Homo sapiens: one gene and its partners. The protein of the gene in region 1 interacts with the protein of each later gene in a pairwise test. Each region holds a gene or a part of one and is shown in the gene's direction. Other genes may lie near its edges. The genes, in order: MECP2, GPR75-ASB3, COPS3 and MGARP.

Region 1 (8,350 bases):
ACGATCCCAAAGTTTGTACATCTGAGCTTGAGACGTGACAAGTTGAGGTCTCTGCTTTGTTCTTCATAGTTGGCAGTTTGTCTCCTCGGGTGCCCCTCCGGTTAGCTGTTTATCATACGTCTAGCCCTATCAACAGTGCAGGCAGCTTCCAGAGTATAGTTTTCTCTGCAAAGTGCCTGGTGGAGGGGTACCTCCTTTTCCATTGTCCTAATGGCTCCACTGGGCTTCCATACCAGCCCTTTCCAGTGTCTTAACAGCTCAAAGAAACCCATCTGTGGCTTTCTTGTTAGCACTGGCCTATCACACCTTCCTATTGCCTGTTAACTAAAATTTTGCCTGGAATGCTTTAAGCTTAGAGTACTGGGTCTTTGTTTCACCCGATTGATAGGAGAGTGTCATGCAGTCAGCCGAACTCCGACTTCTGTGCTGTTTAAATCCTTAGGTAGGTCTGGGGCAAGGCACAAACCACTGTGTATTCAAAGGGTTATGGTGCTTGCATTCTGTGTGTATATGTTTGTAATTTCCAACCAGAGTCGTTTCCCGTGCCTGCCCTGCCTCTGTGCAATCTAGTCTAGTAGGGTAGGGAGGCAAGCTGTGGAGTTTGAAAAAAAAAAAAAAAAGCTAGATGAGTTTAATAGGCTGTTACCCCCTCCAGAACATTCCTCCCATGTGGAGATGAAACGAGAAGTTCATTTCTTTAACCTAAAATAAAGAACAACAGAGATAAAATTGTTAGTTCCTTATTGGAGCCTGGTTTCCATTGCTAATGTACCTGCTTGGGACTCTGCATGATAAATGACGTGTCCTGGAACCTGAAATCTTTTATAAAGGTTAATATCAGCAGAAATCTTTTAATTAGCTAAGAGCAGCTTGTTCTCAAGCTGCCCGAGTTATCTTGGAGGAGAGAATCACAGGAAATGTTTGATATTTCTAGTAACCAGTGTTTTCAGTGCGTGGGGTAAAGCACACTCCTAGACTGGCCAGTCCCAAAGAGTGTGGCAGGACACCTGCTTGTTTTCCCTGCCCTCTGCTATGGTGACATCCTTGCAGACCAGTCTTGCGTGGCTGGCAGACGCAATCTTTTTTTCTTGGGTAGAGCATTATCACCGCTGCGATGGAAGGACCTTGTCCTCGGTGCCTCCATACCAGCCCTTTCCAGTGAAACTACTGCTGTCCCGGCAAGCCCCTGTGCGTGTGCATCATTCCGGGTAGGACAAGATGTGAACAGGTCCCTCTTCTTTGGGCTTAAGTAGAAGTTGTGCTCTTCTGCTTTTACCTGTGTGCTCTTCTGCTTTTACCTGTTCTCTTCTGCCTTTCTCTTGCAAGAAACCTGTCGAAAGCTTGCTTTGCATGCCATTGCTTAAATACTTTGATGGTATGTATGGTATGTGGGATAACTGAGTGGGAGCCGGAATTGGGGGGTGGGCAGGGCATCCCCACCCCCACCCCCACATCAAAGGGGGAATGACCATTTCGTTAGAGAATAAAGCCTGAGTCTTATAACTTCTTCAAGCACATGTATGCTGGGTCTCCTGGCGTGTGAATGTGTTCCCGCTGTGCTGTGTGGCTGTTTTGCAGTTACTGTAGACACTGTAGTCTGGGCTCTCATTATTGCCTCTGAAGTTGACAGGACCAAGCCTTAGTAAGGATGCACTTGTCTTCCTAGCCCAAGAGCTAGGGGTGTTTTATATATATATTAACTTTCTTTTTTAGATTTCATAAACTGCTCTCATTTTCTCTTTTCTTTCTTTCTTTTTTTTTTTTTTTTTTTGAGACAGTCTCACTCTGTCACCCATGCTGGAGTGCAGTGGCACGATCTCAGCTCACTGCAACCTCTGCCTCCCGGGCTCAAGCAGTTCTCTGCCTCAGCCTCCCAAGTAGCTGGGATTACAGGCACCTGCCACCACGCCTGGCTAATTTTTGTATTTTTTTTTTTTTTTTTTTTTTTTTTTAGTCGAGACGGGGTTTCACCATCTTGGCCACGCTGGTCTTGAACTCCTGACCTCGTGATCCACCCGCTTCAGCCTCCCAAAGTGCAGGGATTACAGGCGTGAGCCACCGCACCCAGCCTCTGGCTCTTTTCTTTTTGACATGAAATCTTAAGTTAATTATCTTAAACTTTAAGAACTAGAAGGATTCTTAGTCCAGCACCATCAGTTTACAAACAAAAAAAACTTGTGTCCCTGAGAAGTTGTGACTTTTCCAGGGCCTCCTAGCCAGGATACCAGTTTGGTTTTTATTATATAGCTAGCCGAGTAATACTATTAACTTGACTTCTGGGATTTCAAAGTATTCTATGACTTGACTGTTTAAGGGAATTATGAGGCCTCACTGAACCTCAAAAGATAATTTTAGGTACCATCCTGGTAGCTGTAGAGCAGCAACAGACCAGTAAAAGACTTGGTTGGTGTTGCCCTTCTTCTGGGTTTGATTACATGAGTAATTGTGTGAATAGTCTCTAAGTTGTATGCTCTGAGCTTTCGTTTTTAGCTTATAAAAGTGCTACTCTTGGGCCAGCATAGTATCAGAAATTAGCTAATTCATATGGGGCAGTTTAGGCTTTAACTAGGAAATGATGGTTATCTTAATGACAAAAAAGGTACTGACAAAAGTCCTTTTTTGAACATGTGTTCAAAAGAAAAAGAGAAACTATCAAACTAATAACTGAGTTTGTTGAACATCGAGATTGACTGATCTGAGAGGCTTAAAACTGATTGCCCTGAAATAGACTTGCATGTTTTGGATGATGGCTTTGGGTCTCCCAGAGCACTTGGTTTCCCTTGGTGCTGATTTTTTCTCTCAGGATTAAAGCCCCTTTATGTGATGTTGTTACAGCAGCTTATTGCAACTTCATTCAGCTGCTTGAAAAAGAAGGGAGACTGCCTCTAGGTTCCATGTGTTCTTTCAGGGATGGTATTTTGATGTTGCGTATTCTCTTGAACATGTATTCTTCCCTGAGAATTTCTGTGTGCCGTGGTAGAAGAAATACTTGCCAGAAATCGCCACTCATGGTATGCTTTTGTAGTGTCGAAGTGTCCCCTAGAGGTGACAAGGCTTGTGATAGTGTTGATTCTAACAAGCATGAATCTTTCCTTTATTTTAGCACTGTGTGTTACGTGCCAGTAATTTGCAGCTTATCCTTTGTTTCTAGCTAGGTAAGCTGGGAAATAGCCTAGTACTTTGTCTATGTGTTTATCTTCAAAATGTCCCAAATAGCCCTGGGAAAAAGGTCGTGCAGCTCAATGGGGGCTTTCAACTTACAATTTTCTTTGTTTTAGGCTCCATAAAAATACAGACTCACCAGTTCCTGCTTTGATGTGACATGTGACTCCCCAGAATACACCTTGCTTCTGTAGACCAGCTCCAACAGGATTCCATGGTAGCTGGGATGTTAGGGCTCAGGTAAGTAACCTTCCTTTTTTTTTTTTTAGTATATGTCCTGGTTTGGCCATCTGTTTTTTTTTTTTTTAAAAAAAAAAAAAAAAGGAAAAGAGGAAAAAAATATACTACTCTTGGACAGTATAAAAGTACCCCAAAGACTAAAGACATAACTGTGCCAAACTGTGCCATATAATAAAAAAAAGTCACTTCCCTGAGCCCTGAAAGGTCAGTGTGTGTAGGGTTACTTGGTCGCCACAGCGTGATCTGGGGGCGGGCGTCAGATTAGAGCCGGAACTGGTGATCTGCAACTTCAGTTCACCTTGAAGCAGGTCAGCTGAGCTGAGAGCGCTTGCACTGAGCCCTTTTGCGCTGCTGCTGTTGCCTTAGCGGTCTTCAGCATGTGTTTGCTTTGGTTTGGGGTAAATGGCTTAGTGGTCAACATTAGTGAGCAGTGGTAATGCATTTTCAGATATGGGAACTGGTATGTGGTTGGTTCCCTAGAAGGACACCCTCCTGAAAGCTGTCTCAGAACACCGGGGGCCATGGCTAATGTCATGTGCTTGCTACACTCCTCCCATGGTAACTAAAGAGAGTACCCAGATATACATCTGGTTCTTGGGACTCTAGAGGAGGATGAGTACTTTGTAAAAACCTGGGGGCCCCAGTCATTCTAGGTCTGACACTCAGGTGCTGTATCAGCTGCAGTTTGAACTACTTGGCACCATTGTGTGGACTTTAGTTTTGTAAAAATGAATGGTTCCTTAATTTCTCAACCTTCAGGCTCAACATCTCAAGCTGTTTGTTGTTGTTGTTGTTGTTGTTGTTTTGTTTTGTCTTTTTGATTAGTGGTCACTCCGCATTTGATGTTTTGACATGTGGATTTCAGAACTTCTGTGTGGTAAAGCAGAATGTTCCAATTGAATTTTCCCATTTTTTTTCCCCTAAGCAAAAATGTGAGTTTTCACTTATGCGGCCATTGTGATTCCGACTGAGACCCTAAGTCGTTCTTTGTTGTCTCTCTAGTGGTTTCTGACACCTCAGTGTGAAGCTGTTGTAGACATCCATAAGAAATAGCCTGCTTAGGGATTATGTGAGGGCAAGGTTTGGCTGAAGGAGAATAGAAGGTGTGGAAGGAAGCGGAAGACCAGAAGAGCATCACACTGCCTCAAGTCCCAAATTTGATTCTGCTCCTGATCCTGTGACTCAAATTGTCATTCTCTTTTACTGCTGTGGGGTGTGCTCTGGGCCCAGCTGACAGGACATTCTTTGTACTCCACGTATTTATGCTGGTGGGAGTTGTATGGCTAGTGCTTTGTGCTTTGTCTCAGAAATTGTGTGGACTAAATGTAATATGGGCAGTGAATGGGTTTCTTCTGGAAGATGTTAGGCCTGGAGGGTGGTTTGGGTTTTTACGAGTCTTTTTCTCAGATTACAGATTACGAATGGATGTTATAAAACAGGCAGTGTTGACACCATACAGTTTCTCCTAAGAAATGTACAGAGAGTTCAACCTGAGGAAGCTAATTGAAAATAAACTTTTAAAAAGAAATGTAGAAAGAGGAAATTTAAAAAGTATCTTATGAATGGGAAAGATGTAGCCATTTGAGCTTCAAAGAACTTTTGAGGGAATTCTCAAAGGACAGTACCCGTCTTTAGTAGATAAATGCTTGATATCTATTTTTCTTCTTTTACTTTTTAAAGAATTACTAAAATAATACATGGATTTATAGAAAAATCAAACCACTTAAAAATTGATCAGGTGGCTGGGCAAGGTGGCTCATGCCTGTAATCACAGCGCTTTGGGAGGCCTAGGCGGGTGGATCACCTGAAGTCAGGAGTTCGAGACCAGCCTGGCTAACACGGCGAAACCCCATCTCTATTAAAAATACAAAAATTAGCTGGCCATGGTGGCTTGAGCGTGTAGTCCCAGCTACTCGGAAGGCTGAGGCAGGAGAATCACTTGAACCTGGGAGGCGGAGGTTGCAGTGAGCCAAGATCACACCACTGAACTCCTGCCTGGGTGACAGAGTGAGACTCGGTCTCAAAAAAAAAAAAAAAAAAAAGTATCAGGTAAAAAAATGAAAGCTCCCCGCTTAATCTCTGCTCCCACTACCCAGAATAACTGCTGTTAATAGCTTAATGTAGATCCTTCTAAGTCTTCTAAGACTAAACTGTGTACTTTTTGTGTTGTAATTAACAGGAGGGTTTTTGTTTTGTTTTGTTTTTTCTTTTTTTGAGATGGAGTCTTGCTCTGTCATCCAGGCTGGAGTACAGTGGCACAATCTTGGCTCACTGCAACCTCCACCTCCTGGGTTCAAGTGATTCTCCTGCCTCAGCCTCCTGAGTAGCTGGGATTACAGGCGCCTGCCACCACACCCAGCTAATTTTTGTATTTTTAGTAGAGATGGGTTTCACCATGTTGGCCAGGCTGGTGTCGAACTCCTGACCTCAGGCGATCCACCTGCCTTGGCCTCCCAAAGTGCTGGGATTACAGGCGTGAGCCACCGTGCCTGGCCTCAGGATGGTGTTATATATACATATTCTGCATTTTTCCATCTCATATATTCATCTCTGCCTCATTTCTTTTAAATAGCAGTGTAGTCCAGGGCTGACTTACCGTCATGCATTTCGTTGTCTCTCTATGTTATTAAAAATGCTACAGGATTGAAATTCCTCATGTGCCAGTCATTTTGAAGAATGGCTGCCTAGACTTGGAATTTCTGGTGGATACCACCACATCACTGTCCAAAATGGCTATCCCAGTTCCCACAACAGTCTGAGAAAGTGCCATTTTCCCATATCGTCCCAGAATTGGATATACATCTTTTAAATTGGTGCCGCTTGGATTATTACTGAGGCTAAACCTCAATAATCATTGTCATAGCTCTTAATGTATTAAAGATGTTAACTCTTTGTCATGCAGATATTTTCCTGTTTTGTCTTACGTCTTGATTCTTGTCTTTCTGATATATAAAATTTATGTTATGATTTATTCTTTTGCTTTCATACTTAGGAAATCCTTTTTTACTCTTTTTTTTTTTTTTTTTTTTTTTTTTGAGACGGAGTCTCGCTCTGTCGCCCAGGTTGGAGTGCAATGGCGTGATCTTGGCTCACTGCAAGCTCCATCTCCCGGGTTCATTCCATTCTCCTGCCTCAGCCTCCCGAGTAGCTGGGACTACAGGCGCCCGCCACCACGCCTGGCTAATTTTTTTGTATTTGTGAGACAGGGTTTCACCATGTTAGCCAGGCTGGTCTCGATCTCCTGACCTTGTGATCCGCCCGTCTCTGCCTCCCAAAGTGCTGGGATTACAGGCGTGAGCCACCGCGCCCCGCCAGGAAATCCTTTCCTACTCTTAACAACAGATCAATAGTCATCTATATTTTCTTCCTAAAAAACCTGATGATGTATTATATTCATACATACGTATTTAATACATACAAAAGGGCCAGATGCGGTGGCTCATGCCTGTAATCCCAGCACTTTGGGAGGCTGAGGCGGGTGGATCACCTGAGGTCAAGAGTTCAAGACCAGCCTGGCCAAGATGGTGAAATCCCGTCTCTACTAAAAATACAAAAATTAGCCAGGCGTGGTGGCGGGCACCTGTAATCTCAACTACTGGGGTGACTGAGGCAGGAGAATCGCTTGAACCCAGGAGGCAGAAGTTTCGGTGAGCCAAGATCACGCCACTGCACTCCTGCCTGGGCGATAGAGTGAGGCTCTGTCTCAAAAATAAAAAATAAAAATAATAATTTTATAGTTAAGTTGCCCTGTGTTTTTCCTGTGATTAAAAAAAAAAATACCTGTTTTGTATTTAACTTTGGGGTGGGATAAGGTATAGCCCACTTAGTCAGTTGTGTCTAAGCCACTTGATGAACCAGTCAATCCAGTCTTCACCTTTAACAAATGCTGATTTCTTCAAGTGAGCAAAATATCTCTTAAACTTTTTCCTATTTTCTCTATAAAGTTGCTTTTTTCTGAATTTTTTCTTTATGAGGCTTGATGGGCAGCCCTATCAGCAGACAATCATTCATTCACCCAACAAATATTTGAGTATCTGCTTCAAGCCAGGGGCAGTGCTAAGCCCTGGAAGTGGTATCTTCTCCTTATCCGGGAGTGGGGCTACAGTGTTCATTCCAGAAGACTCAAGAAAATAGCAGATCATCACAAAAGTAGGTTTTACATAAATGAGGAGGAATCCACAGGGTTGTGTATATGTGTGTGTATTTTAAATTCTGACATAAGTTGGAGCTTTAGGGTAGACTGTGACATAAGAGTAGTTTGTTTTCCAACTCATGTAATTGCCGGCTGATTTTTGTCTTGAATTATGATAATGGTAACTTCTGTTGAAACAATTCTGTATTCATCTTAGCTTGGTTGGGATGCAATAAAAGTTTTGTACTGGTAAAAATGATAATTTTCTTCCATGATGATTTTGAAGCTTTTCTGTAACACCTGATAAAAATAGAGGGGCCAGGCATGGTGGCTCATGCCTGTAGTCCCAGCTACTCGGGAGGATGAGGTGAGAGGATCCCATGAGCCCAGGAGTTTTAGGCTACAGTGAGCCATCATCACACCACTGTACTCCTGTACTCTAGCCTGGGCAGCCTCGTTCTTTAGAGTAAGACACTGTCTCTTTAAAAAAAAAAAAAAAGAAAAAAGAAAAAAAGAAAAGGCTTTTAGTGAATATATTTTTAGGGTAGCAAGTGTAATTTTTATAAATTGCATTATTTGAATCTAATAAATACCCTCAAAGCTGAAGTCGAATTCTGATTTTGATTGAAAATATTTTTTACTTAAAGGAAGAGGGATAGAATAAATGACACGATTAAGGAAAAGACTTCTTGTATAAGGCCGGGGTTTTTTAAATGATTTTTTGAATAGTTAGATGGACAATACGGAATTAAAAAGGTGGTGTAAAAAGTTATACGGGGCTGGGCACAGTGACTCACGCCTGCAATCCCAGTACTT
Region 2 (6,525 bases), on another chromosome or scaffold:
CACAGTGTACTTCTCCCATTTAGACCTTATTTCAGCTACATCCATGTATCAGAATAAACTGGGCTTAGAACCAACTCTTTGAATTGCTAGATCACTAAGAATTACATTAATAAAGCCTAGTCAATCACCTTGTTCTTGTTAAAATATTAATATTTAAAGGAGTCTTATACCTTTAAAAATGAAATTATTTAAAGTATATATCTTATTTTATATTGGCTTATTTTATTTTATAGTACAAATAATGTTTGGTTAATAGTATACATGTAATTTATATGTAAAATATATATTGGATTCTGTGGTCAGAGACTTTACTAATTTAGTGTGTAATCAAAACATTTGGAGATCACTAGATTCTGTGGTGCCTGGGATTTGTGTGGTGTTTCACTTTATGAAATGCTTTTGCAAATGTGTTCCAACTTGAACATCATCAACAGCCTTTTGATGCAGGGAAGTGTCATTATGCCCATTTTGTAGATGAGGCATTATTCTCATTTTATGGAAAGGTAACTGAAAGTCAGAATATTTAGATGACTTGCCCAGGGTCACACAGCTAGTTAATAGTGGCACCTCAGCGCCAGCACAGGTGTTACTACTAGATGGTGCTTTTCCATTTAATCCATTCATTGCCTCTACTGGTCATTCCTTTATACTGGCCATTCCTATTGTTTTGACTTCATGTCCTAATCTATTACTTGTTTTTCAGAGTTCTCAGGTACTTGCTTTTTGTGTTTTTTCTAGCGGTTTTAGTTATAGTCAATGAGAGAGACAACACAAGTAAATTAAGAAAAACTGGGAACAAAAGGATGGATACCAACGAGAAAGACAATATATTAATGATGAAAATAAAAATGGTAGTAGGTGTCTCAGAAGTCAGATAAATGCATTTGATGTGCAAAACATTTCAAAGGAACCAGAGAAATGTAGTTCAGGCAGATAGGTTGTTTGAACATTGGCCTGAGGGAAGGCTAAAGATGAATGTAGAAAATATAGTGGGTGTGTATGATATAGATATAGTTTTGTGCTATAGTAAAGTTGGCATTTATAAGCATAATGAATTAAGAATTGTGACGTTTATTTTGATCATTGTGTGTGCTTTTGATTTTAACAAAACTTTGTATAACAACATGTAGTCTTCTATTTTGATTGTTCTGCCAGTACATATAACAAAATGAACAAAATAGAGGAATTCTGTATAGGAATTAAAAGTTAAATATTACTCATCTGCTAATAGATCTATGGATAAACTAAGTTTAACATATTGAATAAAAATGATTGGGTCAGAAAAGTGACTTAGAAGTGTAGCATGGTTTCAGACGTCATTTTCTAGGTTACAATCACTGCCATAATCCAAGAACATGGAGATGTATTTAACAAAACTAAAATATAGTTTTAATAGGTTTTCATGAAAGTATGTTTTACATACAGCTTCTGTGGCCTTTTTCGTATTATAAATTCAAGGCATGGCTTGATCTTCTAGCCTAGTGGCAACACGTCTGGAAATAACTATGCATCACTAAAACTTTCATAGGGATTTTGTGTGCTTTGAAATATTGCATATATGGTTATAAAATTCCCTTAGTATTTACTGGCATATTAAACAAAAATGGCACTGACAGGCATATTATTGTCTGTGTTAATAATCTACACATGAAACACTCCCTCAGTTCAGCTGAACATAGTTCTTACCTCTAATTGTTCATTAGGCCAGTGATCTGTTGTGCTCTTAGAAGGAAAACCAAAATGGTGCAATTAAAATTTGAACCAATACCTGAAGTAGCTATACTTTTCCTTTTTTATTATTAAATGGAAAGATATTCTGAAATTTATGATAGTTTCAGTGGTTTAGAAGATGTTGGAGAATTATATTGAGCTTATCATAGTTTAAAGAACCCTGGACTGGGAGTCAAATCATTGAGATCTAGTTAACAACAGCTATGTTGTTGATGTGCCACATCTCAGTGGGCAAGTCAGTTACGCTTCTCCTAACAAATGCGAACTGGTCTAGTGTGGCTTGATCACTAATGGTTAAGCTTCTACACATAATTAGCATAAACAAATGATTTATTAAGCTTTAAAGATAGACCTCCAGTGATGTAGTCACATAATCTAGAAAAGCTGGTCAGCACTACATTAAGTTTTAGGGTATCTGGAGGAATCTTCCCAGTCAGCCCATAGAATTTTAAGCCAGTGTAGTCTGTCCACTCTGAGAAGCTGGAGCATCATTAAGGATCCCTTATCTCCATGTGAGCAGCTCTCCTCCGGGTTGCACAGCCATCCTTTATCTTCCTTCTGGTTGTGTAGTAAGTATTCATGTTCCTAAGAATGTGCAGAATGAAGAGATTCAATTTAACAGATGCCTGTTAAACTCTAACTGAATATAAGTAGAAATTCTCTTTAAAAACACACACTGGATTAAACAGTCTTGTCATTTTCTCTTTCATTTCCATCTGACTATGTCCATTGGCATGCTCTGTGTTTGCAGCTGGCCAGCTACACTCTAGAATGCCAGTGTTCCTACCAGCAGAGGTGTGTGCTTACCAAACAGCAGTTATGCTTATTTCTGAAACTTTTTATTACGTTGTGCATATTATTGGAGTTAAATAATTCCAGATTGCACAAGCTAATGAATTATGAGTGTGAAAAGAGAATCATTGTTGCTGTTAAGGCAAAGTAGAATGCAAAAGACTTGATAAAGATAAGCACAGAACAGAAATAGATATTGAATTAGACGTGGCTACAACAACTGAAAGCAAAAAAACCTGTAAAAATATGGAAGGATTATGCACTCACCTTGTTTCATACATGCCTTTAAATCCATGCTGTAACTCAAAGAAAGTGAAACTGTGTCCTTATTTATATAGTGGTGAGTAAAAAATACATAAATAAACTGCAAGCCATAGATGTTGCATTCTAGATGTGTTCATGTATCCATTTTAAATTAGAATGTTTAAAGTATGTATGGTTGTTGTGGTCACCTGCTTTAAGGTGAGTTTCTATTAACTGACCAATTATTGTTCATGATCCTACTAAGAGGGCTTCCTTATACTTGATAGTTGAACATAGTCAATCTACTTAAACCTTTGGAAAACGGTGGTGTTTGCAGCTTGGGCCTGCTTTCCATATGTATTCCTGCAACTTCCTCCAGTGGCCCCTTTACCTGTGTCTTCCCATCTTTCATGTGAGAACCATCATTTCTCCTTTAAGTTTACAGAAAAGTGTCAAATTTAAGTAAGATATGGATATGAAAAAAGTTAGAAATAAATGTGCGTGCTATATACTATAGATACTGTAATCTTATTATTTATAATAGGGAATCTATGACTCATGATTTAAGAAAATGCCCAGCTTAGACTTAGGTTTTATGTACAAAATCGATAACTTTTGCTTTCTTATTTGGCATTTTGAAACACCAGTTTGAGTGATTTCTTTAATTCTGAATAAACTAAACTAAACCTAAACTAGTAAACTAAAAACGATGATGAGTTAACTTCTATGGCTTGGAAGATATTGAAGATGTTAGAGAATTAATTGGTCTCAAGCCCTATGGGTATTAGAGTTTAAAGAACCCTATACCTGGAATCAGACTAGCTGGTCTGGTATCAGCTGTGCTCTTGATAGTACTTGTCTTTGATGCTCTGATCCTGGTCTGTTCATCATTGTTAAATTTCACAGGGATTTATAAAAGATTTCTTGAATTAACAAAAGGCTTTGGTCCGATTCACATAAAAGCAGACATTAACTTCTTTATTTAACACTTTTCATCTTGGAAAATGAAACTGCTATCATATGATTCTTTTCTTTTTTTTTTTGAGAAGGAGTTTCCCTCTTGTTGCCCAGGCTGGAGTGCAGTGGCATGATCTCGGCTCACTGCAACCTCCGCCTCCCAGGTTCAAGCAATTATTTTGCCTCAGCCTCCCTAGTAGGTGGGATTACAGGCATGTGCCACCACGCCAAGCTAATTTTGTATTTTTAGTAGAGACGTTGTTTCACCATGTTGGTCAGGCTGGTTTTGAACTCCTGACGTCAGGTGATCTGCCCGCCTCAGCCTCCCAAAGTACTGGGATTACAGGCATGAGCCACCGCGCCTGGCCTATCATACAGTTCTTAATTATGTGCATTTGAATTGTCCTTTAATTGGTAGTTAGCTTTTGGCTGCACTGCCTTGCCAGATACACACACACACACACACACACACACACACACACACACACACACGCTTTGGGTTCAGATAGATCTGAGTTTGAATCCTGGCTCTGCTGCTTACTAGCTCTGTGACTTTGGAAAGTTGTTTTTTTAAATTTCTACAACAGCCTGATAATATATACTTCATGAAGTTAATGAAGATAAAAAGAGAATTTGAGTGAAGTACATGGGCTTATGGCATAGAAGGCACTCAGTAAATACTCCCTTTCTCTCAGAGTCAATTAAAAATTTTCATTTTATGTTATGGATAAAAAGGAAAACTTGCAAGCTGTACATCTATTCACTTGATGTGATAGGTCTGGAAACCATTTGTAATGAAATAGATTAAGAGGAAGGTAGCATTTGCTATTGTGAGCTTCCACCATTTCTAAAGTTGGTTCATCCATTTCTTAAGTGCAGGTATTAACAGATCTTTAGAATTTGAGCATTTAGTGTTTGCGGCCCTGGATACTGACTTTGAATGTGTGGCCAACAAACTGAAGGGAGAGGAGCCAGTTGAAGGCTGTAGAAAAGAATAAATAAGGTTTATTGTGGTCATACTGACTCAAAGTAGTCTTCTTTCAAGCAATATATCACTTTTATTACTAAGAGTTGGGGGAAAAAAAAATTTACCTTTATGTGCTATTACATCTTTCTGTTTAAAAAAGTTTCACCTTGCTTTTTTTGTTTCTCCAGCCACTGTTCCATCCCTGACCCATCTTTGTCGTTTGGAAATTCGGTCCAGTCTAAAATCAGAACGTCTACGGTCTGACAGTTATATTAGTCAGCTGCCACTTCCCAGAAGCCTACATAATTATTTGCTCTATGAAGACGTTCTGAGGATGTATGAAGTTCCAGAACTGGCAGCTATTCAAGATGGATAAATCAGTGAAACTACTTAACACAGCTAATTTTTTTCTCTGAAAAATCATCGAGACAAAAGAGCCACAGAGTACAAGTTTTTATGATTTTATAGTCAAAAGATGATTATTGATTGTGAGATAGGTTAGGTTTTGGGGGGCCAGTAGTTCAGTGAGAATGTTTATGTTTACAACTAGCCTTCCCAGTAAAAAAAAAAAAAAAAAAAAAAAAAATTGTAAACATCACTTATATTACTTTATTGCAGCTTCATCACCAGTACATTATATGTTGTAATATTTATTTACCTGATCATTTTGATCATTTTCTGCTTTATTTTGCTAATAAACTGTGATGTTACTTCTAGTGCTAAACATGGCATATTTCCACCTATGATTCGTGTTTACCTGGTATTAGGAGCTCAGAATGGAATGCATAAAGCTTCACTGGAAGTGTATACAACTGTGGTGTAGAATCTGTTATTATTATCATTATTATTTTATTTAGACTTGACTATCTCTTATGTTTATTAAAGAACATGTTTTCCTATTCAGTTGCTTTTTTTTTTTTTTTTTTTTTGGAGACAGAATCTTGCATTGTCACCGAGGCTGGAGTGCAGTGGTGCAATCTCGGCTCACTGCAACCTCTGCCCCAGGGTAATTCAGTCACTTTTATGAAGAATTGATACTCATTGCCGTTTCACATGTAAACTCACAGGAAAAAATTACTTTGAAAGAACATAGAAAATCAATCATATTGCTGGGTTTTCCCTTCCAGTTTCTTTTCATTCTTTGGCAAAACAAACAAACAAACAAAACCAACCAACCCAATTCTAATCTGCAAAGGCAAGAACAGCCCTAAACTCAAAGATGTGCTCAGCTGGGAAAAAAAATGGTTTCAGTTTTGAGATAAATGGGCATGTTAGCACAATTAGGATTTTAATCAGGAGACTGAGAGGGGCATGTCTGTGGCACCATCTTTAAAGAAAGAAAGGGGCCGGGCGTGGTGACTCACGCCCTTAATCCCAGCACTTTGGGAGGCCAAGGCAGGCGGATCACGAGGTCAGGAGATTGAGACCATCCTGGCTAACATGGTGAAACCCCATCTGTACTAAAAATACAAAAAAATTATCTGTGCATGGTGATGGGTGCCTGTAGTCCCAACTACCCTGGAGGCTGAGGCAGTAGAATGGCGTGAACCTGGGAGACGGAGCTTGCAGTGAGCCGAGATGGCGCCACTGCACTCCAGCCTGGGAGACAGAGTGAGACTCCGTCTCGAAAGAAAGAAAGGTAGGTATTACCGAGTTACTTAGTATTATATATAAAATTCAGGTTCCATTCAGCTCTAGAATCATTGAGCAGCTTTGTTCCTATGAAGCAGTAATAGCCAGTTCTACTAATATTATGGTGTTTTTCCTTCTTATTATCTAGATAAGCTGTCAAACAGTCCATGAAATAAAGACCTCAGAATCCTAGATTAATGAGG
Region 3 (8,350 bases), on another chromosome or scaffold:
ATATGGTAACTTTCATTGCTGTCGGCTACTGTGCCTCACACTCACTGGATAGGAAATCTTTGAGTTTCAGGCCAGGCGCAGTGGCTCACTCCTGTAATTCCAGCACTTTGGGAGGCCGAGGCGGGCGGATCATCTGAGGTCAGGAGTTCAAGACCACCCTGGCCAACATGGTGAAACCCTGTCTCTACTAAAAATGCAAAATTAGCCAGGCATGGTGGCGGGCGCCTGTAATCTCAGCTACTCGGGAGGCTGAGGCAGGAGAATGGCATGAACCTGGGAGGTGGAGCTTGCAGTGAGCCAAGATCGCGCCACTGCCCTCCAGTCTGGGTGACAGAGCAAGACTCCGTCTCAAAAAAAAAAAAAAGAAAAAAAAGAATTTTATTGGCCACATCTCTGGTTACACTGATTTCAAATGCACTCTGTGACACTTAAACTTTTTTTTTTTACTCTGCCCTTGGCCCTGCACTAATTAATTATCTGGTGATTTCATAGTGACCCAGCTTTTATTTCAGTCTCAACTGGGCACTGATTGTTAACTAGTAGAGAACTAATGGATTGCAATGCTTATTTCTGGGTGTTACAAATTATTGTTAATATATTTAGAGTAATGGTTTACAAAGGCAAATTATTCAACTAGAAGTTACTTCATACCTACCAGTGAGATCTGTAATACAATGATGATGAGTTGGTATTTCCCAGTTAAATCTGTGTGATCTCAAGAGGTGACACCTAATAAGATCACAGCTGTTTTATTCTTGTTTTGTAATGCATGTATAATAATGATACATTTCCTTTGCTTTCAGTAAAATGTATCAAATTGAAAAGTGTTAAATTATCAAAAGTACCTAGCTATAGTCACTTGTATTTTAAGCATTATACTATGTTGTATTCTTTTAGTAAGGAAAAGATTATGCAGTTGCTCTGTAGAAATAGAGAAGTTGGAAACTTGAGGTTAATGCCCATGGACTTAAATATATCCTCACTGTTACCAGAAAGACAGAGTGTGACCATGGTATCTGTCATGACAGTAATTGTCAAAATTGATGGGTCTACTTAAAGGTACCAATTCAGGCCTAATTTTTTTTTTCCCCCGAAACGGAGTCTTGCTCTGTTGCCCAGGCTGGAGTACAGTGGCGCAATCTCAGCTCACTGCAGCCTCCATCTCCCGGGTTCAAGGATTGTCCCAGGTTAAAGGATTCTCCCACCTCAGCCTCCCGAGTAGCTGGGATTACAGGTGTGTGCCACCACACCCAGCTAATTTTTGTATTTTTAGTGGAGACAGGGTTTCACCATGTTGGCCAGCCTGGTCTTGAACTCCTGACCTCGAGATATCTGCCCACCTTATCCTCCCAAAGTGCTGGGATTACAGGTGTGAGCCAGCCTGGTCTTGAACTCCTGACCTCGAGAGATCTGCCCACCTTATCCTCCCAAAGTGCTGGGATTACAGGTGTGAGCCACAGCACCCGGCTGAGGCCTAATTATTAATAGATTCTGTACCTTAGTTGTTAAAATGTAGCATTGCAGGCTGAGTGTGGTGGCTCATGCCTCTAATCCCAGCACTTTGGGAGGCCAAGGTGGGAGGATTGCTTGAGCCCAGGAGTTAGAGACCAGACTGGGCAACATAGTGAGACCCCTGTCTCTGCAAAAAACTTAAAAAATAAGATGGGCATGGTGACGTACACCTGTAGTTCCAGCTACTCGGGAGGCTAAGGTGGGAGGATTGCTTGAGCCCAGGAGATGGAGGCTGCGTTGAGCTGTGATCACACCACTGCACTGCAGCCTGAGCGACAGAATGAGACCCTGTCTCAAAAAACAAAACAAAACAAACATAGTATTGCAGTATAGGGGAAAAATAGATCAATTAGGAGATTAATTCAACAAGTAGCTGCTTGATGAACTGCTAAGCAGGTGATGTATTCTAGAGCTGGAGAAAGGGACAATCCCTCCACCTGAGTTTACTGAAATACCTAACCACTACAGTCCCATGCGAGGCAGAGAGGGCAGATACCCAGCTTAGCCATGGGGAAGGGAGCTGAGATGAGGGTCTAGAGACGCCACAAGTTGATTGCTGAATGCTGGATGAGGCTCAGTCAGGTAGCAGAGGATGTGGGGGAGAAGGACAGAGAACAGCATGTGTAGAAGCATAAAGAGGAGAGAAGATAGAATGTTGATTTTCTGAGCTTGCTGTGATCGAAGAGTAGGTGTGTGAGGGGAAGTAGCAGGAGATAAGGCTGGAAAGGTAGCAGGGACCAGTTATTGAAGGGCCTTAGTTCAGGCTGAGGCGTTTGCACTTCTTAAAGTCATTGGAATAACTTGATTGAATGCACAGTTTATAGAACAGACAGTACTAATATGGAGTGCGGGTTGGAGGAGAGAAAGATCACAGTAGGCAGACCATTTAGAAGATTTATGATGTAGGCTGGGCGCGGTGGATCATGAGGTCAGGAGTTCAAGACCAGCCTGGCCAAGAAGGTGAAACCCCCGTCTCTACTAAAAATACAAAAAAATTAGCCAGGTGCAGTGGCAGGCGCCTGTAATCCCAGCTATTTGGGAGGCTGAGGCAGGAGAATTGCTTGAACTTGGAGGGCGGAGGTTGTAGTGAACCGAGATTGCGCCACTGCACTCCAGCCTGGGCGACACAGTGAAACTCCATCTTAAAAAAAAAAAAAAGATGTAGTCCAGACAAAAAATGATGAGGATCTGAATTAGGGCAGAGAGGGGAGAGAGAAAGAAATGGAGCTGAGAGACTTTGGAAGTAAAACTAAATCATTTGGATGCAGAGAGCTGTTAATAGTAACGTGCATTTCTGGCTTGGGAGACTAGAAAACAGAATAGAGAAAAAGGTGAAACATTCAGGGTCAGAGAGAAGTGGGAGGTCCAGTGTAATCTCTAATTCGTTTTGAGACCACGGACAGGTTGTTTCACTCCTCTGGTCCTTCTGGATCCTCATCCGAAGTGAAGGAGATTAAGAATCAATTTTGGGAACTTCAGGCTCTGAAGTACAAAGTTGTGGTTAGAGTTCCATCAGTTTGGTTAGTGCTGTAGCTGAAATGCAATAGTGTTGTTCCTGTTTTCCAGGGCAAATGACACAGCTTTGTGAACTGATCAACAAGAGTGGGGAACTCCTTGCGAAGAACTTATCCCATCTGGACACTGTGCTCGGGGCTCTGGATGTACAAGAACACTCCTTGGGCGTCCTTGCTGTTTTGTAAGGAGCATCTTCTTTTATAGTTCTGTGCTTGTTAAAATGGAACACTGTGCACTTCCTGGCTTTATTTTTATTTATTTATTTATATTTTTTGAGATGGAGTTTCGCTCTGTCACCCAGGCTGGAGTGCAGTGGCACATTCTTGGCACACTGCAAGCTCCGCCTCCCGGGTTCACTCCATTCTCTTGCCTCAGCCTCTTGAGTAGCTGGGACTACAGGCACTCGCCACCCGCCCCAGCTAATTTTTGTATTTTTAGTAGAGACAGGGTTTCACCATGTTAGCCAGGATGATCTCGATCTCCTGACCTCTTGGTCCGCCCACCTTGGCCTCCCAAAATGCTGGGATTACAGGCGTGAGCCACCACGCCCAGCCCTGGCTTTATTTTTATTTATTTATTTATTTTTTGGTGTAGAAAGTAAACCATTGTAAATAACATTGAGCTCTTTTGCAAAACTAAAGTTATGGCAGTTACAGTTTATTGATTCCAGCTAATAATTGCTTGTTATATTTTGTTCAACTTTATCATTTTTAAAAACTCTTTTATGTATCCGGGCATAAAGAGGTTGCAGTGAGCCAAGGTCGCGCCACTGTACTCTAGCCTGGGTGACAGAGCGAGACTGTCTCAAAAAAATAAAATCAGTTGTTGCAGCTGGGCACAGTGGCTCCCGCCTCTAATCCCAACATTTTGGGAGGCAGAGGCAGGTGGATCACTTGGGGCCAGGAGCTCCAGACCTGCCTGGCCAACTGGTGAAACCCTGTCTCTACTAATAAAAAAACTAGCCGGGTGTGTTGGCGCATGCCTGTAGTCCCAGCTACTCAGGTGGCTGAGGCATGAGAATTGCTTGAGCCTGGAAGGCAGAGGTTGCAGTGAGCCAAGATTGCACCACTGCACTCCAGCCTGGGCGACAGAGGGAGACTCTCTCAAAAAAAAAAAAAAAATCAGTTGTTGCTTTTCCTGCTTTGAGAACATACTAAGGGGGCCAAGAGTGAGAGCTATGGGCTGGCTGGAGGTGGGCAGCAGCTTAAGTTAAAGATGCTGCCACCAGCTGTGTGGTCTATCTGAGAATAACACTGACAGAACAACTGATAGGCAGGACAAGAGGAGTAGAGTGGTGAGAAGAGGGAGGACTCAGGTGATCCTTCCCAAGTAACTCAGACTGCCATGAGAAACACTCCAAGGAGGCACTGGTGATAGGTTTTAGGGGAGAAATCATGTAAACTTAGCACTATTAAGGCATTGGTTGTAAGTAAATTTCAAATTCTTTAAAAAAAAAAAAAAGCACGATTGAAATGTAATTTCAAGAAAAATTAGGCCAGACACAGTGGCTTACATCTGTAATCCCGGCACTTTGGGAGGCCAAGGCGGGTGGATCACAAGTTCAGGAGTTCAAGACCAGCCTGGCCAACATAGTGAGACCCTGTCTCTACTAAAAATACAAAAATTAGCCGGGTGTGGTGGCATGCACCTGTAGTCCCAGCTACTCGGGAGGCTGAGGCAGGAGAATGGCTTGAACCTGGGAGGCGGAGGTTGCAGTGAGCTGAGACAACGCCACTGCACTCCAGTCTGGGTGACAGAGTGTGAGACTCTGTCTCAAAAAAAAAAAAAAGAAAAGCTAATCATAATTTCTACTACATCTTTTGGTTTATCTGCTTCCATCTATACTGTATTATTTGACTTAACAATGTCACCATACATCTGTATTTACACTTTGTAATTATCAAGACATGTCAGAAACAATTTCATCTGGGGTTCACAATAGGTCAGTGAGGCATTGCGACTGCCAGTTTATAAATAAAAATATGAAGCTCAGGGCCCCACAACTCAAAATTGGAAGAATATGTAGATTCAAAACCAGGGTCCTCAGCCAGAAGCTCAGGGTTCTTTCCATACCTTATCTAACATATACAACGGTAAACACCTTATACCTTCAAAATGCATTCATGTCCATTACTCACCTGATATATATGTTTATGTGAGTTTATGTGTGTATAAAACATGCATGCTCTCTGTTCTTTCTTGAGATAGGGTCTTGATGTCACTCAGGCTGAAGTGCAGTGGTGCAAGCATAGCTCACTGTAGCCTCGACCTCCCAGGCTCAAGCAGTCCTCCCACTTTAGCCTCCTGGGTAGCTGGGACCACAGGCATGTGCCACCACACTCAGCTAACTTTTTTTCTTTTGGGGGGACAAGGTCTTGTTCTGTCACCCAGTCAGGAGTGCAGTGGCATGAGCACAGCTCACTGCAGCTTCAATCTCATGGACTCAAGTGATCTTCCAACCTCAGCCTCCTGAGTAGCCAGGACCACAGGTGTACACCACCACGCCCGCCTAATTTTTGTGTTTTTTTGTAAAGACAGGGTTTCATCACGTTTCCCAGGCTGGTCTTGAACTCCTGAGCTCAAGCAATCTGCCCATCTCAGCCTCCCAAAGTCCTGGGATTACAGGCATAAGCCACCATACCTGGCCACTTTTTTTTTCTGTAGAGATGGGGTCTTGCTATGTTTCCCAGGCTGGTCTCAAACAGAGCCTCCCAAAGTGCTAGGATTACAGGTGTGAGCCACTGTGCCCAGCATCTGCTCTTTCATATAAATAAGAAAATACAGACAGTAGAAATCCTTACCAGCACTGTCCAATAGAACTATCTGCAGTGGTGGAAATGTTACAAACCTGTGCTAAGACAAGGACATGTGACCACATGTGGCTACTGAGTACTTGAAACATGGCAAGTGCACCTGAATCTTTAATTTTAATTTAAATAGCTGCATATGGCTAGTGGCCACCATACTGCAGAGCATAACTCTAGATCCTTCCATTCTGACAAAGCTTCTTCTCTAAACTCTGCTCCGGACACATACCTTTGTCTCAGGAATCCCAGCGTAAGTGAAGCCAGACTCTCACTTTAAGTCAATTTCTTCTCAGTTTATTTATATCATTTCAAATGTCATGACAACCACAATATCCCAATTTATAATACTATAACATCAAGAGAAAAAGAATTCTACTGTCAAGTACACGGTTACAAGGAACCCCAATTAAAATAAGGTCTATTTAATTTGGTCTTAAATAGCTTAAATTTGTTTGAAGGGAATTCTAAGCAATGTTGCTTTGGATCTTTGATACTTTTTCTTTTTTTGAGAAAAGGTCTCACTTTGTCATGTAGGCTGGAGTGCAATGGCTTAATTGTAGCTTACTGAAGCCTTGAACTTCTGGGCTCAAGCAATCCTCCCACCTCAGCATCTTGAGAAGCTAGGACTATAGGCATGTACCACTACACCCAGCTAATATTTTTATTCTTTGCAGAGATAGGGCCATATTATGTTGCCTAGGCTGGTCTCAAACTCCTGGCCTCAAATGATCCTCCGACCTTGGCCTCCCAAAGTGTTGGGATTATGAGCAACTGTGCCCAGCCAATATTTTCATTCAATGTATTCTGCCATGCCCTGTGGCAGTACTCCTCCGAACTTCTTTTTAATTTAGAAAATGTGGACATTCCTGTGGATTACATGGATAAAAGTATTCAGATAAATGCAAACTATAGTCCCCACAATTGAGATGGCCATTTTTTAAAACAAATTTTCAGGATTTGTATAAACATAAAGGAGTTTTTTTTTTTGAGACGAGTCTCACTCCGTCACCCGGGCTGGAGTGCAGTGGCACGATCTCAGCTCACTGCAAACTCTGCCTCCTGGGTTCAAGCAATTCTCCTGTCTCAGCCTCCCAAATAGGTGGGATTACAGGCACCTGCCACCACGCCCGGCTAATTTTTCTATTTTTTGTAGAGATGGGGTTTCACCCGATTGGTCAGGCTGGTCTTGAAATCCTGACCTCAGGTGATCCACCCGCCTTGGCCTCCCAAAGTGCTGGGATTATAGGCGTGAGCCACCGTGCCTGGCCAATTTTTGTATTTTTAGCAGACATGGGTTTTCACCATATTGGCTAGGCTGGTCTCGAACTCCTGACCTTGTGATCTGCCCATCTGCCCACCTTGGCCTTCCGTAGTGCTGGGATTACAGGCTTGAGCCACCATGCCCAGCCTATTTGGCTTCATTTAGTGGAATTTTTCATCTTGAAAGTTGTTCCTTATTAAACATATATATATATATAAAACATATATGTTTAATATATACATGTTTATTATTTAATATATATTATTAAACATATGTGTGTGTATGTGTGTATATATATATATATATAGATATATATAGATTTTTTTTTTGAGACAGTCTCGCTCTTGTTGCCCAGGCTGGAGTGCAGTGGCACCATCTCAGCTCACTGCAACCTCCACCTCCCGGGTTCAAGCAGTTCCTCAGCCTCCCGAGTAGCTGGGGTTACAGGCATGCATGCACCACCACGCCCGGCTAATTTTTTTGTATTTTTAGTAGAGACGAGGTTTTTCCATGTTGATCAGGCTGGTCTCGAACTCCCGACCTTAGGTGATCCTCCCGCCTTGGCCTCCCAAGGTGCTGGGATTACAGGCATGAGCCACTGCGCCAGGCCTAAACATATTTTTCTTAACCCTTATTTGTGTCCGTTCTGTATAGTGATTGTGCAAAATAACCAGGTCAGGAAAATCTCATGGATTCTAGTTCTTATTTATTTGTTTTTTGAGACTGGATCTTGCTCTGTCACCCAGGCTGGAGTGCAGTGGCATGATCATAGCTCACTGCAGCCTCAACCTTCTAGGCACAAGTGATCCTCCAGCCTCAGCCTCCCAAGTATCTGCAACTACAGGCATGTACCCCCACGCCTGGCTAATTTATTTTTTGTAGTAGAGACAGGGTCTCACCATGTTGCTCAGACTGGTCTCAAACTCCTGGCCTTAAGCAGTCCTCCTGCCTCAGCCTCCCAAAGTGCTTGGATTACGGGCATGAGCCACTGTCCTGGCCTAGTTCTTAATTCTAAAAAATACTGTTGCTCATTTAATTTTACAGAGTATTGGAGGCAGGATGGATTTCTTGCATACATTGTTTCTGTATTTTATCCCATGAACTATCAGGGTAATTTGATTCTTTTCTCCTTATTCTAGGTTTGTGAAGTTTTCTATGCCCAGTGTTCCTGACTTCGAAACGCTATTCTCACAGGTTCAGCTCTTCATCAGCACTTGTAATGGGGAGCACATTCGATATGCAACAGACACTTGTA
Region 4 (8,350 bases), on another chromosome or scaffold:
ACAGGTGTGAGCCACCGAGCCCAGCCTTAAAAGGGTAACTTTTTAATGAATAAATAATTTAGATTTATAATAGATAATTGGGGAAAAACAGGTAAAATAAAAAATGGAATTCACCTGTAATCCTACCACTCAGTGAACACAACTAATTACGTTTTAGTATATTTAGTTTTCCAGACCTTTTTTTTCCCCTCATTCCTTCCTTGTGCACATTATTTCCACAAATCTTGGATAGTCCCAGAGTATTTTGCTATGACTTTTCACCTAATACATTGTAAATATTTTCTCATGTAAGTAAATATTGTTCTGCAAAAGTTATGTCTATTTGTTTCACATTGTATGAATGTGCTAAAATTTGTCTAATTAATCCTTATTGAAAAATTTCTCATTTCATTGTCTTTTTAAGTAACTTGTCCATCATTGTATTTGTATTTAAGTCTACTTAAATCTCTGGTAATTTTAGTTCTATTTAAAAAATATTTCTGATATTTTTGTCTGTTTGAGAAATATGAAGGCTATATATTCCCTATTTGATCACAGATGTACTTTTAAGCCATCAGAAGTCCCACCACAAGTCAAAGCGATAACCTCTTCTCATAGCCTTTGGGGCACATTAGAAGGAAAAAAATTTTTTTCCAAGAAACGGCCATTTATATCCAAACTAAGAACATAAACAGGAAATCGTTGTGATTTTGCTACTATGAAGGTTTGTAAGCATGCCTTAAGATTCGCCCTGTGCAAATCATAGCTTTCCACTAGTCCCTGCACCCCTATACTTTATGTTAGGCCACATCAAATTGCAGGTTGGACATGCTTAATCCAAAAATCTAAAACACAAAATGTTCCAAAATTAGAAACTTTCTGAGCACTGACATGATGCCACAAGTAGAAAATTTCACATGTAAGTACTTAACACAAACTTTGTTTCAAGCACAAAATTATTCAAAATATTGTATGAAATTACCTTCAGGCTATGTGTGTAAGGTGTATACGAAACATAAATGAATTTTTTGTTTAGACTTCAGTCCCATCCCCAAGATATCTCATTATGTGTATGCATATATTCCAAAATAAAGAATATCCAAAACCCAAAACACTTCTGGTCCCAAGCATTTTATTTTATTTTAATTATTTTTTTGGAACAGAACCTTTCTCTGTTGCCCAGGCTGGAGAGCAGTGGTACAATCACAGCTCACTGCAGGACTCAAGTGATCCTCCTGCCTCAGCCTCCCAAAGTAGCTGGGACTACAGGCACATACCACCACTCTCAGCTAATATTATAAAATTTTTTTGTAGAGATGGGGTTCACCACATTGCCCAGGCTGGTCTTGAAATCCTGGGCTCAAGTGATCCTCCCACCTCTGCCTCCCAAAATGTTGGGATTACAGGCATAAGCTACTGCACCCACTGCTAGCATTTTAGATAAGGGATATTCATCCTGTACTTTGTACCTTCTGGGTCACGAATCTCTCATGCTTTTATACGTTACACCTTCTGCCTCCAGTGCCATTCCTCTTTCCCTTATTTTCCTTCAAAACTCAGGTCTCTTCTATTATGACAACTACCTTGGCCAGCTAGTTGAGTTTTACTCTGCCTGTAGCTTGGCTTAACACTTATTACATTTGTCATACTGTATCACAATTATTTGTATGTTCATACCCTCCTTCTAGACTGTGAATGGCTTGAGACTAGGGACCTTATCTGTCTTGTTCACGGTTATATTCTTAATGCTTCTAACAATTCCAAATACGTAGTAGATGCTCAGCTGTGTTAGTTGAAAGAATACATAAATGTGTTTATGTCTTTATTTTTAAAATAAAGAATTTGAGTTGTATATACTTTAAGCTCCTTCCGACTTTAAGTTTATTGTAAAAATTTCAATTCCAGGGCATTATAGGATATGCAAATGTTAGTACTACAAAATAAATGTTTAAATATAATAATATAGTACCTTTATCTGTTTCTATTAGTTTATACAGAATTGTACTTCTATTTCAGATACAACCTTTCTGCAACATTTGGCTTAAAAACGTTTTATCTGCCCATATTTGCTTTATAAGAGAAAAATTGAGATTTCTTTCTATACCTACATGTGTATTATAGATTTATAGAAATATGATGGATTTCAACATAAATGCTTGATTTAACATATAAATACAAATTGTATTACATTTTAGGTATAAACATACTGAATTCATTTTTTAAAAAATAATATTTTCACTGAATCCTGTAGTGGAGTACATATAGTACATGGCTTTCTCTTGCTAATGTGCACTTCATTTGGCTGTTAAAATTTTTTAGTGCTTTTGTCATTTCTCCTTACCCACACCTGCACCCCTTCCAAGAAGGCATGATGCTCAGCATCAAGATGACAGGTTTCATGAGTGTTTATCAAATTAGATTGGGAGACTGTCAAGTGGAATTATTACCCAGCCTCGTAATACTGTATTCCCTTAAGCTAAAATCACTTGATGTTAATAGATTCTAGGTTCACTGAGTAGAAAAATTTTGAAAGATGTAATTATTTAAAATAGTTTTGCTCAACTAGTGAAGCTAACTGTGTTTAAACATTTTTTTCCTAGCATCTCTGCGCCGGATGTCATCTAACAGATTCCCTGGATCATCTGGATCAAATATGATTTATTATCTGGTTGTAGGCGTCACAGTCAGTGCTGGTGGATATTATGTAAGTGATTATATAACCACAGTGCTCAAGAATTCATGTATTTTACAACTCATGGTAAAGCTCAAAGCAACGTCAAGATCAGGACATGAGATTAATTAAATATACAACATAGCAATAGATTTAAGTGTCATTAAGCATACACATCTGAAAAATAGGTGGCAATCATTAGAAATACAGGGTTTTCATAAGAATATATTAGCTAGACTATTATGAAGGTTTTTCTTTTTTAGTTTATTTTTAAGTTTTATTTCATTCGAACCTCAGCTTTCTAAATTATGAAGATTTTTGTATTTGTAAAGTCAGCATTTCTTAATACCATTAATATGGATGATTTTCAGTAAAAATAATTTTATTATAAATGCTAATAGTGATAGCTGATACTTGAGTGTTTATCATATGCCAGACTCCTGGATCATTTAATAATTACAACAAGTCTACAAGGTAGGCACTATTATTAACATTTTAAAAGAATTATTTTGAAAGATTAACTTAAAAATTAATATAGGAGCTGGGTGCAGTGGCTCACGCCTGTAATCCCAGCACTTTGGGAGGCTGAGGCAGGTGGATCACCTAAGGTCAGGAGTTCGAGGCCTGCCTGGCCAACATGAGGAAACCCCATCTCTACTAAAAATGCAGAAATTAGCCAGCATGGTGGTGTGTGCCTGTAATCCCAGCTACTTGGGAGGCTGAAGCAAGAGAATCTCTTGAACCTAGGAGGCTGAGGTTGCAGTGAGCCAAGATCACATCATGGCACTCCAGTGTGGGCAACAGAGTGAGACTCTGTTTCCAAAAAAAATTTAAAAAAATTAATATAACTATTAAAAAAATTAATAGATCTTTTTTTAGAGCAGTTTTAGGTTTACAAAATAATGAGCAGAAAGTACAGAAACTTCCATATAACCCCTCACACCCCCTCCTCCTTTCCCCTATTAAAATCTTGCACTGATGTGGAACATTTGTTAAAACTGACAAGCCAATATTGATATATTATTATTAACTAAAGTCCAGGGTTTACATTAGGATCCACTCTTTGCGTTGTATGTTCTGTTTTTACAAATATATTACAATATCATCCAGAATAAATTATAGTATCATACAGAGTCGTTTCATCACCCTAAAAATCCCTCTACTCCACCTACTCATTTCTCCCTCTCTCCTCCCAATCTTTTTACTGTCTCCATAATTTTTGTTAGTTTTAAATTTTCACACAGTTTTATTATTTGAAAAATTCATATTTGTTCATAAGTTTCTAAAAAATGCAACATAGACATATATAAAGTGAAAAGCATATTTTCCTTCCCAGTCCCCATGTCCATTCCCTCCAGGTAAACCCTGTAAGACAAAGGTTTTAATAGTGAGATTTTGGGACTAAAATGACAGACATTTTTTAGTTAAGTAAGTTAAGACTTGAGTCATTCACCATTTTGTCATAAACTTTCTAAATCAAAATATAATCTTTATTAAGAATAAAAGTAGGCCAGTCATGGTGGCTCACGCCTGTAATCTCAGCACTTTGGGAGGTCAAGGTGGGCAGATCACCTGAGGTCAGGAGTTCAAGACCAGCCTGGCCAACATGGTGAAGCCTCATCTGTGCTAAAATACAAAAATGAGCCAGGCATGGTGGCAGGTGCCTGTAATCATAGCTACTCAGGAGGCTGAGGCAGGAGAATCACTTGAACCCAGGAGGTGGAGGTCGCAGTGAGCTGAGATTGTGCCACTGCACTCCAGGCTGGGTGAGAGAGCCAGACTCTGTCTCAAAAAAAAAAAAAAAAAAAAAAGAATAAAAGTAATGCGGTGGCTCATGCCTGTAATCCCAGCACTTTGGGAGGCTTGAGTCCGGGAGTTTGAGACCAGTCTGGGGAACACAGTGAGACCTCATTTCTACAATAAAAAATAAAAAAATTAGCCCAGCGTGGTGGTGTGTGCCTGTGGTCCTAGGTACTTGGGAGGCTTTGATGGGAGGATCGCTTGAGCCTGGGAAGTTAAGGCTGCAGTGAGCTGAGATTGCACCACTGCACTCAAGCCTGGTCAACAGAACAAGACCCTGTCTCAAAAAAAATAATAATAAATAAAAAAGAATAAAAGTAGAGCCTGTAGTGGTGGCTTACGCCTATAATCCCAGCACGTTGGAGGCCAAGGCAGGAGAATTGCTTGCAGGAGTTTGAGACCTGCCTGGCCAACATAGCGGGACCCCATCTCTACAAAAAATGTAAAGAATAAAAGTAGAATAAGCAGAAATTCTTTGTAAACTCTAAGAGTACACAGTCACTATATTTTGGTTTGGACCTACGGAAATATGAATAAAGCCGGGCCGGTGGCTCACACCTGTAAACCCAGTACTTTGGGAGGCCAAGGTGGGTGGATCACGAGTTCAGGAGTTCAAGACCAGCCTGGTCAAGAAATGGTGAAACCCCATTTCTACTAAAAATACAAAAATTAGCCGGGCGTGGTGGCGGGCACCTGTAATCCCAGCTACTCTGGAGGCTGAGGCAGAGAATTGCTTGAACCGGGGAGGCGGAGGTTGCAGTGAGCCAAGATTGCACCACTGCACTCAGCCTGGGTGACAGAGTGAGACTCCGTCTCAAAAAAAAAAAAAAAAAAAGAAATATGAATAAAGAGATGTTTAGTCATAACTAGAAGCAGTTTCATAGGACTATGTAAGATGGCCAAACCAAACCAAACCAAAATACATATTCTAATCCTCAGAATTTTTTTTTTTTTTTTTTTGGGAGGGGACAGAGTCTCGCTCTCGTCCAGGCTGGAGTGCAGTGATGCAATCTCGGCTCACTGCAAGCTCCACCTCCCGGGTTCACGCCATTCTCCTGCCTCAGCCTCCTGAGTAGCTGGGACTACAGGTGCCCACTACCACGCCCAGCTAATTTTTTTTTGTATTTTTAGTAGAGACGGGGTTTCACTGTGTTAGCCAGTATGGTCTTGATCTCCTGACCTCGTGATCTTCCTGCCTCGGCCTCCCAAAGTGCTGGGATTACAGGCATAAGCCACCAAGCCCGGCCTAGAAATTTTTTTAAGGCTAGTCATAATCTTCAGAATTTTGAGAGCCTCAAGGAGTCAGGAAACTGCAAACTTGTCACTTATATTGTTGTCCTCTACTAATCTGCCAGCTTTCACTTGTGCCCAGATTCCTTTGTTCTGTCATCTTTCTACTGTTTAATGTTGAATTCATGGCTCAAACCCACTCTAGTTGAGGTGTAGGCCACCAAAAAAAAAAAACAGAGATTGAGACTAGGCCATGTGATAGGCTGGGAAGCTAGAAGGATGAATTTCATTTGGACATCACTATACCCCTGATTATATTAATATGTACCAGTGCCAAAAACAAACTTTGCCAGACTGCTAACTCACTGGTTGCAAAAGGAATCTTAAACTAAAAGGTTATACATTTATAAACCAGCCATCCCTGAGAACCCTTTCTGGCCTTGTTCTCTCACAGTAGGGATGGAAGTTGTTCCCTTCCATTTCTAAGTTTATGTGATTTTAATCTCAAATGTTGGAAGCCTTAATTGCCAGGAATCTTAGGCTACTTTCAGGAGGAAATGCTGAATGTAAGGCACTCCAAAACCTGTATACTTGTTCTCCCCTTCCATTTCATGTCCTGTACTAAAATAATCTCTATATTAGATTTTTATGAATTGACCCCACAGATGCTTAGTAGCCAAAAGCAGTTTTCCATTTGCAATCAAAATCCTCGACTATTAGGGGTCATTGGAATCTGAAAGAGGCCCAGATCACTCCAGTTTTTTTGAGGGTCTGGGTATCTCTTGTCCCCCAGGCTGGAGTGCGATGGCGCAATCTCATCTCACTGCAACCTCCGCCTCCCGGGTTCAAGCGATTCTCCTGCCTCGGCCCCCTGAGCAGCTGGGATTACAGGCGCCTGCCACCACGCCTGGCTAATTTTTGTATTTTTAGTAGAGATGAGGTTTCACCATGTTGGCCAGGCTGGTCTCGAACTCCTGACCTCAGGTGATCCACCCGCCTCGGCCTCCCAAAGTGCTGAGATTACAGATGTGAGCCACCATGCCCGGCCTGGTCTGGTATATCTTAAAAAGTAGTACCAGACTGGCTTATAAAAATTGTAGTATATTTTAAATGCTTATACTTAATAAATACTTAATATCATTTGTAAATAACTGCCAAAGTCTAAATTTGAGACCCTCTCTTTTAATAGGCCTTTATTCTACTCTGTGCTCGACTGTGCTGGATTTGGAAAACCTAGATTCTTTGGGCCACACATTAGGGTGAATTATTCTAGTATTGTATCTCTTCAATTCTCCCTAAAGTTAGTCTTTTTTCTTGCCTTGTGTTTTAGCCCCTTGAGCAATGAGACTAATGTCCCTTGGAATGTTGTTCCTGGAATGATCCTTTCAGGGATGTGAACTTGTGTACTGGTTCGGTTTGTGTACTGAGAACTGGGGATACTGACTTATCATATTGGTCCTACAAGGTGTCAGGAACACACACCCTACTCGGAAAATATTCCTTGCTTTTATACAGAAAATGTTGATTATCATTCCCGTTGATCATATTTGCTCTGTATGTTTCAAAGCCAAATGATTCAAGTCTGAGTTCACTAAACCCCGGGAAGTTTGCTATAAAAGGGTCACTTTACATCACTTCTACCCGACATTATAGATTTTCTTTTCTTTTTTTTTTTTTTTTTTTCAGACGCGGTCTCGCTCTGTCGCCCAGGCTGGAGTGCAGTGGTACGATCTCTGCTCACTGCAAGCTCCACCTCCTGGGTTCACGCCATTCTCCTGCCTCAGCCTCCCGAGTAGTTGGGACTACAGGCGCCCGCCACCACTCCTGGCTAATTTTTTGTACTTTTTGTAGAGATGGGGTTTCACCATGTTAGCCAGGATGGTCTCCATCTCCTGACCTCATGATCCGCCTGCCTCGGCCTCCCAAAGTGCTGCGATTACAGGCTTGACCCAGATTTTCTTTTCTTTTCTTTCTTTCTTTTTTTTTTTTTTTTGAGACGGAGTTTCCCTCCTTTCCCAGGCTGGAATGCAATGGTGCGATCTCGGCTCACTGCAACCTCTGCCTACAGGGTTCAAGTGATTCTCCTGCCTCAGCCTCCCGAGTAGCTGGGATTACAGGCATGCGCCACCACGCCCGGCTAATTTTGTATTTTTAGTAGAGACCAGATTTCTCATGTTGGTCAGGCTGGTCTCAAACTCCCGACCTCAGGTGATCCGCTGGCCTCAGCCTCCCAAAGTGCTGGGATTACAGGTGTGGACCATTGCACCCGGCCCCGACATTACAGACATTCTATTTTCACAGCATAATTTTTACACTGTAAAATTGTTTGTAATTAAGTAGTACAATTTTTAAATAAGGTACTTGGTTTCTGATGGTTAAAAATTTAGAAGACACTATATATAAATAAATTTTAGAAATCTATCATCTTACCATTAAAAGTTAAACCACTACCAACATTTTCTTAAAAGCTAAATTAATACAAACAATAGTAACTGAATAATGAGATTTTCATTTTTTATATCATTTTCTAATATGAATACAGGCCAAAGAAGACTACTTAAATATAAAATGAAAGGAAGCCTGCACATTTTGTCTGTGATTAAAATAGCTTTCTTCCCAATACTGTTTCTTTCTTTCTTTTTTCTTTTTTTTTTTTTTTTTGAGATGGAG

The links.
Region 2: the proteins of MECP2 (region 1) and GPR75-ASB3 interact in binary tests that used the Homo sapiens proteins (3 or more experiments, as listed by UniProt).
Region 3: the proteins of MECP2 (region 1) and COPS3 interact in binary tests that used the Homo sapiens proteins (3 or more experiments, as listed by UniProt).
Region 4: the proteins of MECP2 (region 1) and MGARP interact in binary tests that used the Homo sapiens proteins (3 or more experiments, as listed by UniProt).

What each region holds. Positions count from the first base shown.
Region 1 is NC_000023.11:154,087,236-154,095,585, reverse strand, and holds part of MECP2 (methyl-CpG-binding protein 2), read left to right. Parts: exon of another isoform or gene 1-1,208; intron 1,209-2,036; exon of another isoform or gene 2,037-3,376; coding exon of another isoform or gene 3,377-3,402; intron 3,403-8,350. UniProt on the Homo sapiens protein: Chromosomal protein that binds to methylated DNA. It can bind specifically to a single methyl-CpG pair. It is not influenced by sequences flanking the methyl-CpGs.
Region 2 is NC_000002.12:53,669,044-53,675,568, reverse strand, and holds the end of GPR75-ASB3 (GPR75-ASB3 protein), read left to right. Parts: intron 1-4,878; coding exon 4,879-5,066; 3' UTR 5,067-5,276; downstream 5,277-6,525. Other genes in the region: ASB3 (ankyrin repeat and SOCS box protein 3), read left to right, coding at 4,879-5,066. UniProt on the Homo sapiens protein: Probable substrate-recognition component of a SCF-like ECS (Elongin-Cullin-SOCS-box protein) E3 ubiquitin-protein ligase complex which mediates the ubiquitination and subsequent proteasomal degradation of target proteins. Recognizes TNFRSF1B.
Region 3 is NC_000017.11:17,270,893-17,279,242, reverse strand, and holds part of COPS3 (COP9 signalosome complex subunit 3), read left to right. Parts: intron 1-3,059; exon of another isoform or gene 3,060-3,078; coding exon 3,079-3,208; intron 3,209-8,234; coding exon 8,235-8,347; intron 8,348-8,350. UniProt on the Homo sapiens protein: Component of the COP9 signalosome complex (CSN), a complex involved in various cellular and developmental processes.
Region 4 is NC_000004.12:139,269,622-139,277,971, reverse strand, and holds part of MGARP (protein MGARP), read left to right. Parts: intron 1-2,579; coding exon 2,580-2,683; intron 2,684-8,350. UniProt on the Homo sapiens protein: Plays a role in the trafficking of mitochondria along microtubules. Regulates the kinesin-mediated axonal transport of mitochondria to nerve terminals along microtubules during hypoxia.